Linked DNA regions of Homo sapiens: region 2 is linked to region 1. Evidence: fine-mapped expression QTL. Tissue or cell type: pancreas. Region 1 holds a variant in brackets; the other region holds the start of a gene. All regions are shown on one strand. Distances are from middle to middle.

The links. PIP is the estimated chance that this variant, and not a neighbour inherited with it, causes the effect.
Region 2: it holds the start of HOOK2, and the variant in region 1 is fine-mapped to the expression of HOOK2 in pancreas (GTEx, PIP 0.97).

The regions. Positions count from the first base shown.
Region 1 is chr19:12,664,015-12,672,089 of GRCh38, reverse strand. It overlaps MAN2B1 (mannosidase alpha class 2B member 1), which reads left to right and starts at 5,348. Exons shown (of 24, transcript NM_000528.4): 1 at 5,348-5,547; 2 at 6,285-6,387; 3 at 6,565-6,738; 4 at 7,105-7,298. The coding sequence starts at 5,389. WDR83 (WD repeat domain 83) reads right to left here and starts at 5,283. Exons shown (of 11, transcript NM_001099737.3): 1 at 5,098-5,283; 2 at 3,463-3,582; 3 at 2,197-2,335; 4 at 1,993-2,113; 5 at 1,805-1,910; 6 at 1,479-1,527; 7 at 1,269-1,395. The coding sequence starts at 2,299. It overlaps WDR83OS (WD repeat domain 83 opposite strand), which reads left to right and starts at 2,675. Exons shown (of 4, transcript NM_016145.4): 1 at 2,675-2,736; 2 at 2,857-2,962; 3 at 3,473-3,570; 4 at 3,665-4,017. The coding sequence starts at 2,687. The coding sequence ends at 3,731. RefSeq lists a cis regulatory region at 1-179, enhancers at 1,054-1,727, 1,887-1,976, 2,117-2,206, 5,736-5,865, 5,886-6,015 and 5 more and a silencer at 5,206-5,485. The variant A/C (reference allele first, on the strand shown) is at 4,741.
Region 2 is chr19:12,772,325-12,780,395 of GRCh38, reverse strand. HOOK2 (hook microtubule tethering protein 2) reads left to right here and starts at 4,844. Exons shown (of 23, transcript NM_013312.3): 1 at 4,844-4,991; 2 at 5,499-5,584; 3 at 5,655-5,727; 4 at 7,352-7,402; 5 at 7,484-7,616; 6 at 7,716-7,783. The coding sequence starts at 4,947. RefSeq lists cis regulatory regions at 665-1,265, 2,365-2,885, 4,385-5,026, enhancers at 1,460-1,509, 4,563-5,241, 5,242-5,922 and a silencer at 4,781-5,000.

The DNA of each region.
Region 1 (8,075 bases):
ATCCCTCCTCTTCCTCCTCCTCTGCTTTCTCAACACGAAGATCTTTATGACGATCTCTTCACTTCCACTTAATGAATAGAAAATATATTTTTTCCACCAGGCGCGGTGGCTCACGCCTGTGATTCCAGCTCTTTGGGAGGCCAGGGCAGGTGGATCACGAGGTCAAGAGATGGAGACCCTCCTGGCCAACATGGCGAAACCCCGTCTCTACTAAAAATACAAAAATTAGCTGGGCGTGGTGGCACGCGACTGTAGTCCCAGCTACTAGGGAGGCTGAGGCAGGAGAATCGCCTGAACCTAGAAGTTAGAGGTTGCAGTGAGCCGAGATCACGTCACTGCACTCCAGCCTGGCAACAGAGCGAGACTGCGTCTCAAAAAAAACAAAAATTCTTCCTTATGATTATTTTTATGTATTTATTTATTTAATTTATTTACTTATTTTGAGACGGAGTCTTGCTCTATCGCCCAGGAGTGTAGTGGTGCGATGTCGGCTCACAGCAAGCTCTGCCTCCTGGGTTCACTCCATTCTCCTGCCTCAGCCTCCTGAGTAGCTGGGACTACAGGCGCCTGCCACTATGCCCGGCTAATTTTTTGTATTTTTAGTAGAGACGGGGTTTCACCGTGTTAGCCAGAATGATCTCGATCTCCTGACCTCATGATCCGCCTGCCTCTGCCTCCCAAAGTGCTGGGATTACAGGCATGAGCCACAGCGCCCGGCCTATTTTTATTTATTTTTAGAAATCATTTTATCTTTTTTTTTTTGAGATGGAGTCTCACTTTGTCGCCCAGGCTGGAGTGCAGTGGCACAATCTCGGCTCACTGCAACCTCCAACTCCCGGGTTCAGGCGATTCTCCTGCCTCCGCCTCCCGAGTGGCTGGGATTACAGGCTCCCGTCACCACACCTGGCTAATTTTTGCATTTTTAGTAGAGACGGGGTTTCACCATGTTGGCCAGGCTGATCTCAACCTCCTGACCTCAAGTGATCTGCCCACCTTGGCCTCCCAAAGTGCTGGGATTACAGGTGTGAGCCACCGTGCCCGGCCAGATTATTATTATTTTGTAGACAGTCTGTCTTTCACCCAGCATGGAGTGCAATGGTGCCTCGAACTCTTGGACTCAAGTGATCCTTCCACTTCAGCCTCCCAAGTAGCTGGGATTACAGCTGTGTGCCACTGTGCCCAGCTGAGAGTAGGTTTTAATCTGAGCATGGGGGCAGCTATGATTCCCCGTAGCACCTGGGGTGAGACCAGGTCCTGGCTCCACTCACCCTGCCAGGATCTCGTGGTCTGACACCTTCACACTGGACACGCCATCTCTGGCCTCATCCAGCGTCTGCACTGGCTCAGGCCTCCGTGAGCGGCAATCCCAACAGCGGATACTGGAATCAATAGAGCCTGTGAGGCCAGCATGATGGTGAGGTCAGGTTTGGAGGGGGAGGGCAGCACCCTGGGCCCCCGTGCTTAGGCCCCAGACTCACCGGACAGGATAACTGTGGCCTCTTCATTAAACTGCACCGTGTTCACCTTCTGAGAAAGTTATTGCCACTCAGAGGAGGCTGGACTTTGGAGGACTGGGATAAAGGCAGGGTTCCCAGTGTCGGTTAAAGCAAGGGCGAAGGGGAGGTGAAAGGTTTTGGGGGAACAGCAAGGACAGGGGTTGGTGACTGCCTAGCCTGGCATGCGGAGTGGGGGATCGTCATCTGGGGAAGGGATCCTTACGGTGTAATGGGGGTGGCCGTGTCACCACCTATGCGCTAATACGGGTCCCCTCCACTCAAATGAGGGTCTCCAGGCTTTCACTCACCCCTGCGTGGCCCCGGAATTTGCGCACGACCTGCCCTGATGCCACATCCCACAGAACCACCGCCTTGTCCCCGCCGCCGGAGCAGAGACTACTGTTGTCAAAGGAGCTGGAGTAAAGGAGGAGGAGGATCAGCATCGACCTCGGATCCCAGCCTCAGCGCTCCCATCCCAGCCTGGTCCCCGGCTCACCCGGCCGCATCCAGCACCTCGTAGCCGTGGCCGCTGTACGTCCGCAGCAGCGTCCCCCGAAGCGGGTTCCACAGCTTCAGCGTCTTGTCACTGCCGCACGTCAGGCAGTAATTGCCATCCACTGGGGAACACCAGGCGGGGGTTACTGGGCCGTCGATCTCAGGAGGCGGGAGGAGGACCCGGAATGAAGACGAAGGCGCTCACCATTAAATCGTACGGCTCGCACTGCCCCCTGCCCGCAGTCCAGCGTCTTCAACCGTTTCTGCGGCAGCTCTGGAGGCCGCGGCTTTGGCTCAGGGAAAGCCATGCTCCCAGGACTCCTTCCTTGCAGCCTTAAATCGGTCTGTACGGAAAATTCCGCGCCTTAGAAACCCACGCTTGGGTGTAACCTTATTATTGTTCTTCCTGACCTACTTCCTGTTTATCACTTCCGGGTTCATCATTTTGGCATTTCGGTGATCGGGTTGGAACTATTGAAGCCCGCTTTCAGGTTCTTTTCCCCATTTTCCCTTTGAAAGGAAGACTTCTGGCTTCTCCTAAATCTCCGTTCTCTGGGTAAGGGGAGTCCAAGCCTCTGTCATGAGGAACGGAAATGCGAGGGCCTCGGGTGTTACTCTAAAATCCGCCCTCAGCTTGCACGCCGGAAGCTGCGATTCCTGCAGCGGAAGAGGCGTGATCTGGCCTTCGACTCGCTATGTCCACTAACAATATGTCGGACCCACGGAGGCCGAACAAAGTGCTGAGGTGAGGACCCCAGCGTCGTGGGCACGGGTTCGGGTTGTGGGTGTGGATCGGGGCCCTGGGAAGCGCCTGTCTATCCCGGGGGCAGGACCTGAGCGCCCCTGACCCTCGAGCCTGTCGCAGGTACAAGCCCCCGCCGAGCGAATGTAACCCGGCCTTGGACGACCCGACGCCGGACTACATGAACCTGCTGGGCATGATCTTCAGCATGTGCGGCCTCATGCTTAAGGTGGGCGGGGTTGAGCTTCTATGGGTGTAGTTGGACCTGAGAACGAGGCCCGGGGGCGGGTTTGGAATGAAGCGGGGTGTCTTGTCATTGCTGATGGGGCGGGACCTGAGATCGGCCGGGAGTGGGGCTGCGATGACGCTGGGCCGAGAAAGCCCCAGTCTTTGGTGAAGTCAAGGATTCGAGTCAGGTTGGGGATGTGGCAGATTGGTCTGCGAGTGGGGCCAGGCTTTGAAGCAACTTGGAGAGGAGTTGTGGAAAAAGGGCAGGGTCTTAAGCATGTGGGATGTCAGAGTCTCTCTTGGTCCTGAGAGACGCAGGCCAGACAGTAGGACTAGAAACCACGTATCTAGAGTATGCCATGAGCAGGTGGGACTGAGGAATTCCGGGTGGGGCAAGGTCCCAGCTGCATCAGATGGAATCAGTGGGCATGATCTGGTGTCTGGAAAGGTGGCTTCGGGGACTCATTGTTGTGCCTTTCACTAACCTGCCCACCCACTTACCTTTCCCTAGCTGAAGTGGTGTGCTTGGGTCGCTGTCTACTGCTCCTTCATCAGCTTTGCCAACTCTCGGAGCTCGGAGGACACGAAGCAAATGATGAGTAGCTTCATGTGAGACTTGCCCTACAGAACAAGTGACTCTTGAGTAAGGGGTGGGGGGACCCCAGCCTGGCCATCCTAGACTGACACCTCTCTCCTGTCTCAGGCTGTCCATCTCTGCCGTGGTGATGTCCTATCTGCAGAATCCTCAGCCCATGACGCCCCCATGGTGATACCAGCCTAGAAGGGTCACATTTTGGACCCTGTCTATCCACTAGGCCTGGGCTTTGGCTGCTAAACCTGCTGCCTTCAGCTGCCATCCTGGACTTCCCTGAATGAGGCCGTCTCGGTGCCCCCAGCTGGATAGAGGGAACCTGGCCCTTTCCTAGGGAACACCCTAGGCTTACCCCTCCTGCCTCCCTTCCCCTGCCTGCTGCTGGGGGAGATGCTGTCCATGTTTCTAGGGGTATTCATTTGCTTTCTCGTTGAAACCTGTTGTTAATAAAGTTTTTCACTCTGGCTGTCAGCCTCTTCTGTTCAGTGGGGTGTTCCTCCTACCTGGCGGGAAGGGCTCTAGCCCCATAGGCCTGGTGTGGGGCCCCAGTCTGGAGGCTTCTGGCTGTTCATTTGCTTACTTCATAAACCTTGTGTCTTAAGTCAGGTGCTAGGGACAAGACAGTGACTTCTGCCCTCTGGCAACTCACCAGATGGCCCTGCTGACCTAGATAATCTAGGCTTTGGTTTCCTTTTTTTTTTTTCCTTTTTAAGAAAGAAAATGGTCTTGATCTGTCATGCAGGCTGAGTGCAGTGGCACAATCTATGTTCACTGCAGCCTCAAACTCCTGGGCTCAAGCAATCCTCCCACCTCAGCCTGCCACGTAACTGGGACCACAAATGCGTGCTACCATGCCCAGTTAATTCTTGTTTTTTTTGAGACAGAGTTTTGCTCTTGTTGCCCAGGCTGGAGGGCAATGGCATGATCTTGATCTCGGCTCACTGCAACCTCCGCCTCCCAGGTTCAAGTGATTCTCCTGCCTCAGTCTCCCAAGTAGCTGGGATTACAGGCATGTGCCACCATGCCCAGCTAATTTTTGTATTTTTACATTTTGTGTAAAATTACAAATTTTGTGTTTTCAAACCCGTCTCTACAAAACAACCCATGTTGCCCAGGCTGGTCTCAAACTCCCAGGCCCAAGTGATTCACCAGCCTGGCCCTCCCAAAGTGCTGGGATTGCAGGCTTG[A/C]GCCACTGCGCCTGCCCTGGGCTTTGTTTTCTTATCAGAGAATGAACTGGTAGGAATTGGGAAAGGCATGAAAGACTCGGGGTCCTTCCCCACTTGTCAGACCCTCTTTTCTCTCCGGAACACCCAGGGATCCTTCTCAACCAGGCTGGATCCCATCCCTGGTACTCCAGGGGTATTTACCCAACGTCCCAATCCCCACAGTATAGGACTCTTCATCAGATCCTCCTCTTAGGCAAGCTAGGTCCTTCCAGGACCCTAGCGCTGAAGGTCCATGGGACGGACACCCTGGATTCCCATGGACACACTACACCGGCTAGGAAAACCCGGCCCCCTTAGGAAAAGCACTTCTGCTCCTACCGGCATTAAGAGGCATTCCGTCTTGGAATTCCGGCATTAAGAGGCATTCCGTCTTCATAGCCCGTGAGACGCCAGTGTCACCTTTAGCCCAACCAGTGCCCTGAGGGTGGCATTTTCCTACCTTCCTGTAACGACCCCCGGGATTGCCCAGGGCTACAGCCTCTCTCCCGTGAGCCTCCAGACCGCGCCCTGGCCCCGCCCCCCACCCCGATTGGCCCGGCCGGGTCTGGGGGCGGGGCGTTTGCCCGGCCTTTCCAGGGCCGGGGAACCCCAGGAGGAAGCTGCTGAGCCATGGGCGCCTACGCGCGGGCTTCGGGGGTCTGCGCTCGCGGCTGCCTGGACTCAGCAGGCCCCTGGACCATGTCCCGCGCCCTGCGGCCACCGCTCCCGCCTCTCTGCTTTTTCCTTTTGTTGCTGGCGGCTGCCGGTGCTCGGGCCGGGGGATACGAGGTGAGTGGGGCCTCCGAGCTGAAACGTACAGGAGGCAGAGTGAAACCCAGAATACAGTCTAGAGGTGTGGGTGGGTCTGTCCTGTGGGTGTCTAGTGAATGGCTGATGATATGACAGTGTGGTCTGAGTGCGTGCTTTGTGTCATTGCGAGGTCTGGCTGTGCGCATCTGAGTATAGGACTGTGTCTGATTGTACCTGCCTCCGTGTCTCCGGGATGCTTGCCTAGACTTTGTCTGCACTTAACTGTGGGATTGGAGGGGCAGGAGGTGGCAGGGGGTGAGCAGTGTATGTGTGGGGGGAGGTGCTGGCTGAGAGCTGGGACTCTGGAGTCTGCCTGAAATTCCAGCCTAGCTCTTACACTTCCTGAGTGTGTGACGTTGGGCAAGTCACCTATCCTCTCTAAGCCTCAGTGCCTTCATCTGGAAACTGGGGATAACATCACCCCACCTCCCACGGTGGCCGTCTGCTGTCGGCAAATGCTGAACAAACATCAGCTACTTCTATTATTATTTTCCCGGAGTGTGAATGAGAGCTGCCCTGTGGGGTTGTGCAAAGTGGAGTTGTATCTATGAGCACAACTATGTATGTGTGTGTCCTGCCTGGGAGGGCCTGGCCTCCTCTGCACATAGGCGAGATCAGGCCTCTCTGAGTCACTCACCTCTAGATCAAGACTTACTCTGCAGCCCCCGACCTCGGGGGTTATTGACAAGGTATGTGTGTTTGGGGTCCCTGTGCAGACATGCCCCACAGTGCAGCCGAACATGCTGAACGTGCACCTGCTGCCTCACACACATGATGACGTGGGCTGGCTCAAAACCGTGGACCAGTACTTTTATGGAAGTGAGTAGAGGATGGGGACTGGTCCCTGGGATCCCCATGGTCCCTGTAATCCCTCTGGGTCCTGGACATTAGGGTGGGGCCAGTGCTACCCTAATATCCAGGGTTTGGGCTCCTCTGTCTAGGAATAACCCCCTTGGCTCTGCTGTTCCCTGAGAGCCTTATCCCTGTTATCCACAGTCAAGAATGACATCCAGCACGCCGGTGTGCAGTACATCCTGGACTCGGTCATCTCTGCCTTGCTGGCAGATCCCACCCGTCGCTTCATTTACGTGGAGATTGCCTTCTTCTCCCGTTGGTGGCACCAGCAGACAAATGCCACACAGGAAGTCGTGCGAGACCTTGTGCGCCAGGGTGAGCCTACCCCAAGGAAGTGAAAAGAGGAAGCCCAGCCCAGCTTCTGCTTCTGCATCTCTGGTTTCTGAGATTTGTCATGCCACGTGCAAGCTGTATAACATGCGTGTCGCTCCGCCTGCCTGGACTCTCCATTTGGAGACCTCCTATACATCCCACAAAGCCCCACCTGCTGTGCATCCTCTGGGAAGCCTGCCATGCAGGGGGCCTCTTTCCCATATCTGGGAACTATGGCCTGGGAGCGACCCCTCTTGTCCTTCCGCCAGAAATGTGTACACAGGCAGGCTTTCACATTCCCAGTATCACCCACCCTACTCCCACTCCTGGCTCTGACCGCTGACCCTGACCTTGCCTGTCCTGGCACAGGGCGCCTGGAGTTCGCCAATGGTGGCTGGGTGATGAACGATGAGGCAGCCACCCACTACGGTGCCATCGTGGACCAGATGACACTTGGGCTGCGCTTTCTGGAGGACACATTTGGCAATGATGGGCGACCCCGTGTGGCCTGGCACATTGACCCCTTCGGCCACTCTCGGGAGCAGGCCTCGCTGTTTGCGCAGGTGCGACCCGGGACCTCTCTTGGGCCCACTTCTTCACTCACTCTGGCTCCTCCCTCGCCCAGTCAAACCCCGCCCTCTCCCTGCAATCTCACAAGGACCAGGCCCAGGCCTAGGCCTGTTGAAGCCCTGCCCCTTGAGTGAGCCGTAAAGCCAGTGGCTTTTGAGCTCTGGCCTCAGCCGGCTATGCCCAGCCCAGGCTGACCCAGCTCCGGCTGGCTCCGCCCTCTCCCCTAATAGGCCCCTCTTGGTGTTCTGGCCCCACCCACTAGCTCGGGTCCTGGCTCCTCCCTAAACCGGGTGGCAAGTGGATGCCTAGGCTGCCTTAAAAACAGGTTCATTACCTGTGCTCAGACCCCATCCATCCTCAGGCTGTGGAAGGGGGAACCTCATTCCTGGAGTCAGGCCTGCTCTGCGCTTTGACAGTGCTGGGGAGGTGAACCTGGGTTCTGATGTTGGACCCGCCCTCTCCCTGCTAGCCCAAGGTGGTGAGTTCTGAAACTTCCCCAAGCTTGGAAATAAGCTGGAGGCCTCTCTGTTTCAGCCCTACGTGTTTTTGTTTTTGTTTTTTGAGACAGGGTCTTGCTGTCATCCAGGCTGGAGTGCAGTGGTGCAATCCTAACTCACTATAGCCTCAATCTCCCGGATTCAAGCGATTCTCCTGTCTCAGCCCCCCTAGTAGATGAGACTACAAGAGCGCACCACTACGCCTGGCTAATTTTTAAATTTTTTGTAGACAGTCTGCCCGTGTTGTGCAGGCTGGTCTCAAAAACTCCTGGG
Region 2 (8,071 bases), 110 kb before region 1:
GACAGAGTGAGACTCCGTCTCAAAAAAAGAAAAAGAAAAAAAGAATGACACAGATATAGACCCAAAGTGAGGTCCCATATAGACGTATATAGTAGACACAGACACACAACACATGAAGATGCAATTGGAGTGAGAGAGCCCCACCCAAACTCTGCCTGGACCATACAGAGATACACAGGGGCACACACTAGAGGTTCCCTAGTCACCCTAAAATCTGGATGGGTTTTTTTGGTTGTTGTTGTTTTTGAGATGGAGTCTTGCTTTGTTACCTAGGCTAGAGTGTAATGGCGCGTTCTCGGCTCACTGCAATCTCTGCCTCCCAGGTTCAAGCAATTCTCTTGCCTCAACCTCCTGAGTAGCTGGGATTACAGGCGCTCACCACCACGCCTGGCTGATTATTGTATTATTAGTAGAGACAGGGTTTCACTATGTTGGCCAGGCTGGTCTTGAACCCCTGACCTCAAGTGATCTGTCTGCCTTGACCTCCCAAAGTGCTGGGATTACTGGCGCGAGCCACCAAGCCCGGCCCCAACCTGGATGTTACGGACAAGGATGTTACCGACAAGGATGTTACAAATTTCCCCTCCCCCAGTCCCCGAAACCAGCCCTCCCCCCCATCAAATCAGGCACAGCCTGTTGCACAAACTCGAAGGCCTTATGACACAATGGATGCAGGACACATGCCCGTGTACACACAGTCACAGATCCTCCATCTCACACCTACAAAGACCAGCACATTTGGCCAGGCGCCGTGGCTCACGCCTGAAATCCCAGCACTTTAGGAGGCAGAGGCAGGAGGATTACTTGAAGTCAGGAGGTCGAGACCATCCTGGGCAACATAGCAAAACCCTTTCTCTCAAAAACACAAAAAAACCTAGCACATTTCACATGGACTCAGACACACACAGACACAGGGAGGGGGGACTGGCTAGGAGTTCCTGGCAGGATGTCAATATCTGGGCTGTAGGGGGCCTGCCAGAGTCCTCCATGGTGATGATGCATGGAGTCCACCCAGTGGCTGTGGTCAGCCAGGGGAGTGGCAGAGGGGCACTGTTCTCCAGTTGTGGGACTGAGGGTCCCCTTCTCAGCCCTGATGAAGACTGGATCCCTGCCCAGATGTGAACGCTGGAGGGGGCAGGCCGGGGTCCAGCTGTGGCCACAGGGAGGGGTTGAGTCAGCCGCTTCCCAGCAGTACAACCTAGGCTGGGCCCAGCTGTTCCTGGAAACCAGTAGAGGGGGTGGGCTCCCCAATCCAGCTGGGGGCTGCTGGCCCAGACCTGCACACCAGGGCTCTGTGTCCCTACAAATGGCGGCCTTCAGACCATCCCCCAAAACGTTGGGGGCTCTCTTTACCTAAAACAGGGGTTTGGATCCTTCTTCCAAAATGTGGAGGGTTTTTCAGCCCCTCTTGCTGAATTAAAGGTGCCTGGATCTCCGCACAGCGGGGCTCCCTGTGTTTCAAAACAGAGATTGCTGCTGTCTTCCCCGCCGACATAGAAGCTCACTGCTTTTCCCCAAATGTGGGACTCCCTGCCGCCGCAAAATGGAGGGTTATGCTCCTCCCCCAAATTGAGCACACCCAGATTTTCCTTAAGTCTGGGGACTCCTGGCTCCCCGAACATCTGGGACGCCCACAACATCACGCCAACATTAGCACAATTTAAGTCAATTTGCCTAAATATTTGGATTTCCAGATTTCCCCTAAACATCAAAATCCCTGCGACCCCCGCCCTAATGTGGTGATCTCAGCATGTCCAGCCACCCATGCTTGTAACAGCTGTGGTTCCTGGCTCACCTCCCATTGCTACCTGGGAACGGGGTGGCCCTGTTTCCCTGTATTGGCAGCACCCTCTCCTCTGGTGAATGCGAGGTCGGGGAGCCAACGGCAGCTGTTCCCACGACCGCCGGAAGACAGCCCAGTCCGGAAGCCAGCGCTGCCGGCCCTTGTCCCCTTCCCCCACTATCCTCTCCACCCGCTCCCAGGGGCTGGAGTCTGGAAAACCACGCGGGAGGAGGTTGTGGGGATATGGACGAGCATCCGAGGCCCCCGGGTGCGTACGGCTGCGCATGAGTGGGCTGTAATCGGGTGTCTGGGGGTGAGTGACTGCGTTCGTGCGATGCGCGCGGGGAGCAGCTGTCACTTTGCCCACCCTGCTCCGGGGCAAGGTCTCTGGCGCCAGGATCTTCTGGGTGGGTGGGAGCAGCGCCCCTCCCCTCCGATCTGGGCCCGCCCCCAATGCAGAGCCCGCCCCTCCCTCTGGGTACAGCTAATAACCTCTAATTAGTGCACATTACCCCGCCCGTCTACCGGGGAGGGGTTGCAGAGGGACCCTGGGGTCACAGGGCGCGAGCCTGGGCTTCACCCTTCCCCTCAAAACCCGGTCCACTCGGAACCTCTGTTTTCTCGCCGGCAAAGCAGGGAATTAAAACAGCACTTGCCATCTGGAGACATGGGGAGGATTCAATAGTCTATGTATTTAAATCGCTTAGCGCAAGGACTGCATACAGTAAGCACTCCATACATGGTGACTGCAATTTATTGTTAACTATAATTCCCATCACTTTCCATTGACCCCCGCTCCACCGCCCCAGCCGGGGTTTCAGGGCGGGCGCACAGTCTTCCCCCTAGGCCGCGTTCTGCGGTCTCCGCGCCCCCTGGTGGGCCCGGGCGACGCGGCAGCTTCAGCCAAATCCTGGGTTCTGAGGTGGGGGTGATGCCGGGCGCGCATCTGGGGAGGGCAAGGCGCGGGGGGAATATCGTGGAAGACGGATCCAGGCTGGGCAAGGGTGCCTATCCATCAGCCAGGACATGTGTGTCTAACTGACCTCTTCTCGACCTAGGACCATACCCGTGTCCCCTTATCTACTGCTGGAGTCAATAATGCAGGGAGGATCCATTCATTTATTTATTTCTTGAAACAGGGTCTCCCCCCTGACGTCCAGGCTGGAGTGCAGTGGCGCGACCACGGCTCACTGCAGCGTTGACCTCCCGGACTCAAGCGATCCTCCCACCTCAGCCTCTGGAGTAGCTGGGAATAGGCGCGTGCCACCACGCCCAGCTACTTTTATTTTTTATTTTATTTTTGTAGAGACGGAGTCTCGCTGTGTTGCCAGGGCTGTTCTCGAACTCCTGGGTTCAAGCAGTCCTCCCTCCTCGACCTCCCAAAGTGCTGGGATTACAGATGTGAACCATCGCGCCAGGCATTTTATTTTATTTTATTTTATTTTATTTATTTTTTTTGAGACAGTCTCACTCTGTCGCCCAGGCTGGAGTGCAGTGGCGCGATCTCGGCTCACTGCAACCTCCGCCTCTTGGGTTCAAGCTATTCTCCTGCCTCAACCTCCCGAGTAGCTGGGACTACAGGCGCGTGCCACCATGCCCGGCTAATTTTTTGTATTTTTAGTAGAGAAGGGGTTTCACCGTGTTAGCCAGGATGGTCTCGATCTCCTGACCTCGTGATCCGCCTGCCTAGGCCTCCCAAAGTGCTGGGATACAGACGTGAGCCGCCGCGCCCGGCCCTATTTTTAAATTTTTACTGTTTTTTTTTGAGACAGAGTCTTGCTCTGTCACCCAGACTGGAGTGTAGTGGCCCTATCACGGCTCACTGCAGTCTCGACCTCCTGGGCTCAAGCTATCCTCCCACCTCAGCCTCTGTAGAGCTAGGAGCTAGGACCACAGAAACACGCCAACATGTCTGGCTAATTTTTTTTTTTTTTTTTTTGAGGAGTCTTGCACTGTTGCCCCCTGGAGTGCAGTGGTACGATCTCGGCTGACTGCAACCTCCGCCTCCAGGGTTCAAGCGATTCTCCTGCCTCAGCCTCCCGAGTAGCTGAAATCAGGCGTGCGCCACCACGCCCAGCTAATTTTTAGTATTTTTAGTAGAGACGGGGTTTCACCATGTTGGCCAGGCTGGTCTCGAACACCTGACCTCGTGATCCGCCCGCCTCGGCCTCCCAAAGTGCTGGGATTACAGGCGTGAGCCACCGCTACCTGGGTAATTTTTAAATTTTTTGAAGAGAGGCTGGTCTCCAACTTCTATCCAAATTAATTCTCCCTCCTAGGCCTCCCAAAATACTGGGATTACAGTCGAGAGCCACCGCGTCCGGCGGGAAAACCCCTTTAGCATCCCCTCTCCCAGTCCATAGAAAGTGCCAGGGCTCGCCCCTCCCCGCACAACGGCTCCGATTATAAAGTGGTTAGACACAAGAATTTACTTAAGGCCGGGCGCGGTGGCTCACGCCTGTAATCCCAGCACTTTGGGAGGCCGAGGCGGGCGGATCACGAGGTCAGGAGATCGAGACCATCCTGGCTAACACGGTGAAACCCCGTCTCTACTAAAAATACAAAAAATTAGCCGGGCGAGGTGGCGGGCGCCTGTAGTCCCAGCTACTCGGGAGGCTGAGGCAGGAGAATGGCGTGAACCCCAGGGGGCGGAGCCTGCAGTGAGCCGAGATTGCGCCACTGCACTCCAGCCTGGGCGACAGCGAGACTCCGTCTCAAAAAAAAAAAAAAAAAAAAAAAGAATTTACTTAAGTTGCAGGGAAAAGACGTGAATGCGCTTGTGTAACAGGGTGGAGCACCTCCGTCTCAAAAGGATCTTGAGGACCTCCCACCCCAAAAAGGGCCAGGGCGAGGATGGGAGGTGGGACCACCCTCGGATGCACAAGGCTGGGCCAGGCTGACCCCTAGCGGCAGGGCGGGCGCCCGAACGGTGCCCGGATCCAAGATGGCGGGGCTGGAGGCAAGAGCGGGCGTAGGGAGGAGATTACGTTCCGAGGCGGAGCCTGGGCTTGGGGGCGGGGCGGGGCCTGCGCCTAGGGGGGCGGGGCGGGGCGGCGCTCTAGGCCGAGCGGGAGGTCGGGGCTGCGGGCGCTCGCTGGTGGCGGACCCGGAGGCTGCTGCGGCGCCGGGGCTCCGTGGCCTGGATTGAATCCGATCGGGAGCCATGAGCGTGGACAAAGCTGAGCTATGCGGGTCTCTGCTCACCTGGGTAGGTCGTGGGGCGGGGCTAGGGGAAGGTGAGCGCCCGCTCCTCTTGCCCGGGATCCCTGGCCCTGGTTCGGTCAGTCTCTTGGTGCTGGGGCTGGGAGGTGCGGGGTCGTCGACTTGCTGGACCGTTGGACTCTGGCCCGAGCACCCGCCCCCGTCACGTGGCAAGTCTGCGTGGAAAGGACAGGTGAGGCCCCGCCCCTCTGTGGTTGGTTCACGTGGGGCGAGGACACAGGTGAATTGGCCTGGTCACGTGGTGCCTGTGGGGCCCAGGTGACTCGCGATACCACCCTGGCCTGGACGCGCAGGGTTTGTTGGGCAGAGGTGAGGTGAGGCCACGCCCCCTCCGGTCTCAGGTGAGCAGAAGCCAGTCCCTCGCAGAGCTGCTGTGGCGGAGCAGCGCCCGCCCCACCATGTGAGGTTCGCTGACTGGAAAAGTCTGCAAAAGGGGAGCGGTTCGGCGCTCCCAGGCCCTAACTCTTTCCTTGTCCTTTCCTTTACCCCTCAGTTACAGACGTTCCACGTTCCGTCTCCCTGTGCCAGCCCTCAGGACCTGAGCAGCGGCCTTGCCGTAGCCTATGTGCTGAACCAGATGTGAGTGGAGCTGAAGGGGAGGATCCCAAAAGTGTCCCCCAGTCTGCTCATCCCACCTTCTCGCCCCCAGAGACCCCTCCTGGTTCAACGAGGCATGGCTCCAGGGCATCTCGGAAGATCCAGGTCCCAACTGGAAGCTGAAGGTGACAAGTGGACTCCTGATTAGAGGACAGACTGGTGAAGAGATGACCAGGGACGGGCCAGCTAGGCACATGTCCTGGGTGATGGGCAGGAAGAGGGACAGATGTCTGGTGATCAACCATTTGTTCATCCATTCATCTATGGAGTACTCACCCTGTGCCAGGCCTGGGCATTCAGCAAGGAATAACACAGACAAAAACCTGCCCCACACAGCCATCATTCTAGTGACAAGCAACACATACACAACCATAAAAATTAACTTCCAGGCTGGGCGCAGTGGCTCATGCCTGTAATCCCAACACTTTGAGAGGCTAAAGTGGGTGGATCACCTGGGGCCAGGAGTTCAAGACCAGCCTGGCCAACAAGTTGAAACCCCATCTCTACTAAAAATACAAAAATTAGCTGGGTGGGGTGGTGTGCACCTGTAATCCCAGTTACTTGGGAGGCTGAGACATGAGAATCACTTGAACCTGGGAGGTGGAGGATGCAGTGAGCTGAGATTGAGCCATTGCACTCCAGCCTGGGCAACAGAGCGAGACTCTTGTCTCAAGAAGAAGAAAAAAAGAAAAAGAAAAAGAAAAAGAAAAAACTTTTGATGCCAGTAGTTCTGTGAAGACAACAAAAAAGCAGGGCTTTGAGAGAGAGCAATGAGGGCATAGGTGGCTGATTACATCAGATGGGTTAATCTCCAAGTGAAATTTGGGGGAACGGTGTTCCAGGCATAGGGAATAGCAGATGTAAAGGCCGTGATTTGGGAATAAACTTGGTGTGATGGAGGAATGGCAGAGAGGGCAGAACAGAGCAAGAGGGCAAGATTTGTAGGAGATGAGGTCATCAGGGGCCTGGCAGGCCATGGTGGGGGTGTGGATTCTATTTTTAAGTGCTGTGGAAAGTCAAGGCAGGGTTTTAGCAGAGCAAAGATGCAACCTGGCTTGGGCTTTATAAAGCTCCCCCTGGCTGCATGGAGAGAAATAAAATGTAGGCAGCAAAAGTGGAAGAGGAGAGGCAGCTGGTGCACTAATCCAGGTGAGAGGTAAAGATGGATGGGTAGGGCTGAAGGATGGTGGGGCAGGTGGTGAGAAGTGACTTGGTTCTGGAGACATATGAAGGAAGATGGTCAGGCAGGCCGGGCACAGTGGCTCATGCCTGTAATCCCAGCAATTTTAGAGGCTGAGGTGGGAGGATTGCTTGAGCTCAGGAGCTTGAGACCAGCCTGGGCTACATAGCAAAACCTCCTCTCTACAAATAAAAAAAAGTAGTCGATTGTGGTGGCATATGCCTGTAGTCCCAGCTACTGGGAGGCAGAGATAGGAGGATTGCTTGACCCCAGGAGGTCGAGGCTGCAGTGAGCCAAGATTGCACCACTGCACTCCAGCCTGGGTGACAGAGCCAGACCCTGTCTTAAAAAGCTAAAGCAAAAAAAAAAAAAAAAAAAAAAAGAAACAAAGATGGTCAGGCAGACAAAAGGGGCAGACAGCCAGACAGGTCACCCCTAGAGGAAGGCGCACGCAGACAGAATAGGATGAGATGAGCAGGGAAGGAGAAGTGAGGTGGAGAGAGGATGGGACCTACAGATTCAGAGTGGGAGGCCTCTGAACTTGTCCACAGTTCCTTGTTCCTCCCTAGGTCAGCAATCTGAAGATGGTCTTACGGAGCCTAGTAGAGTACTCCCAGGATGTGAGTAACTGTAAAGGGATTCAGGGGGTTGAGTTGGGAGAAGGGTGGGCCCATGAGCCCCTGACACCCCCTTCTCCCCAGGTCCTGGCGCATCCTGTGTCAGAAGAGCATCTCCCAGATGTGAGCCTCATTGGAGAGTTCTCAGACCCGGCAGAGCTCGGCAAGCTGCTTCAGCTGGTGCTGGGCTGTGCCATCAGTTGCGAGAAAAAGCAGGGTATGGGGAGCTTAGGGGGTCCCCAGGGCTGGCCTGAGGAAATCCTCCTTCCTCCCCACCTCACCCCTGGGTCTCAGCCTCCCCCACCTTGATCCCCAGACCACATCCAGAGAATCATGACGCTGGAAGAATCGGTTCAGCATGTGGTGATGGAAGCCATCCAAGAGGTGGGTGGGGGCACTCAGTGTGCAATTGGAAAATGTCAGGAGAGGGGACATCTCTAGGGCAGAGAGAACTGGGCACAGGTCCTGCCCTGGTAAGGTCTGGACTCTGCCTGGAACTCAGCTGGCCAGACATCTCTGTCTCATGTGTCTGCCAGCTCCTCCCAGCTCTAAGTCGCAATCTAGCAGGCTCAAGGGATCTGGCTTCCCTCTGTGTTGGAGGCAGGAGGGCAGCCTCTGGGCTGGGGTTATTGGGCAGAACTGGCCTTGACGGGAGGATGGAGAGGTTCTCAG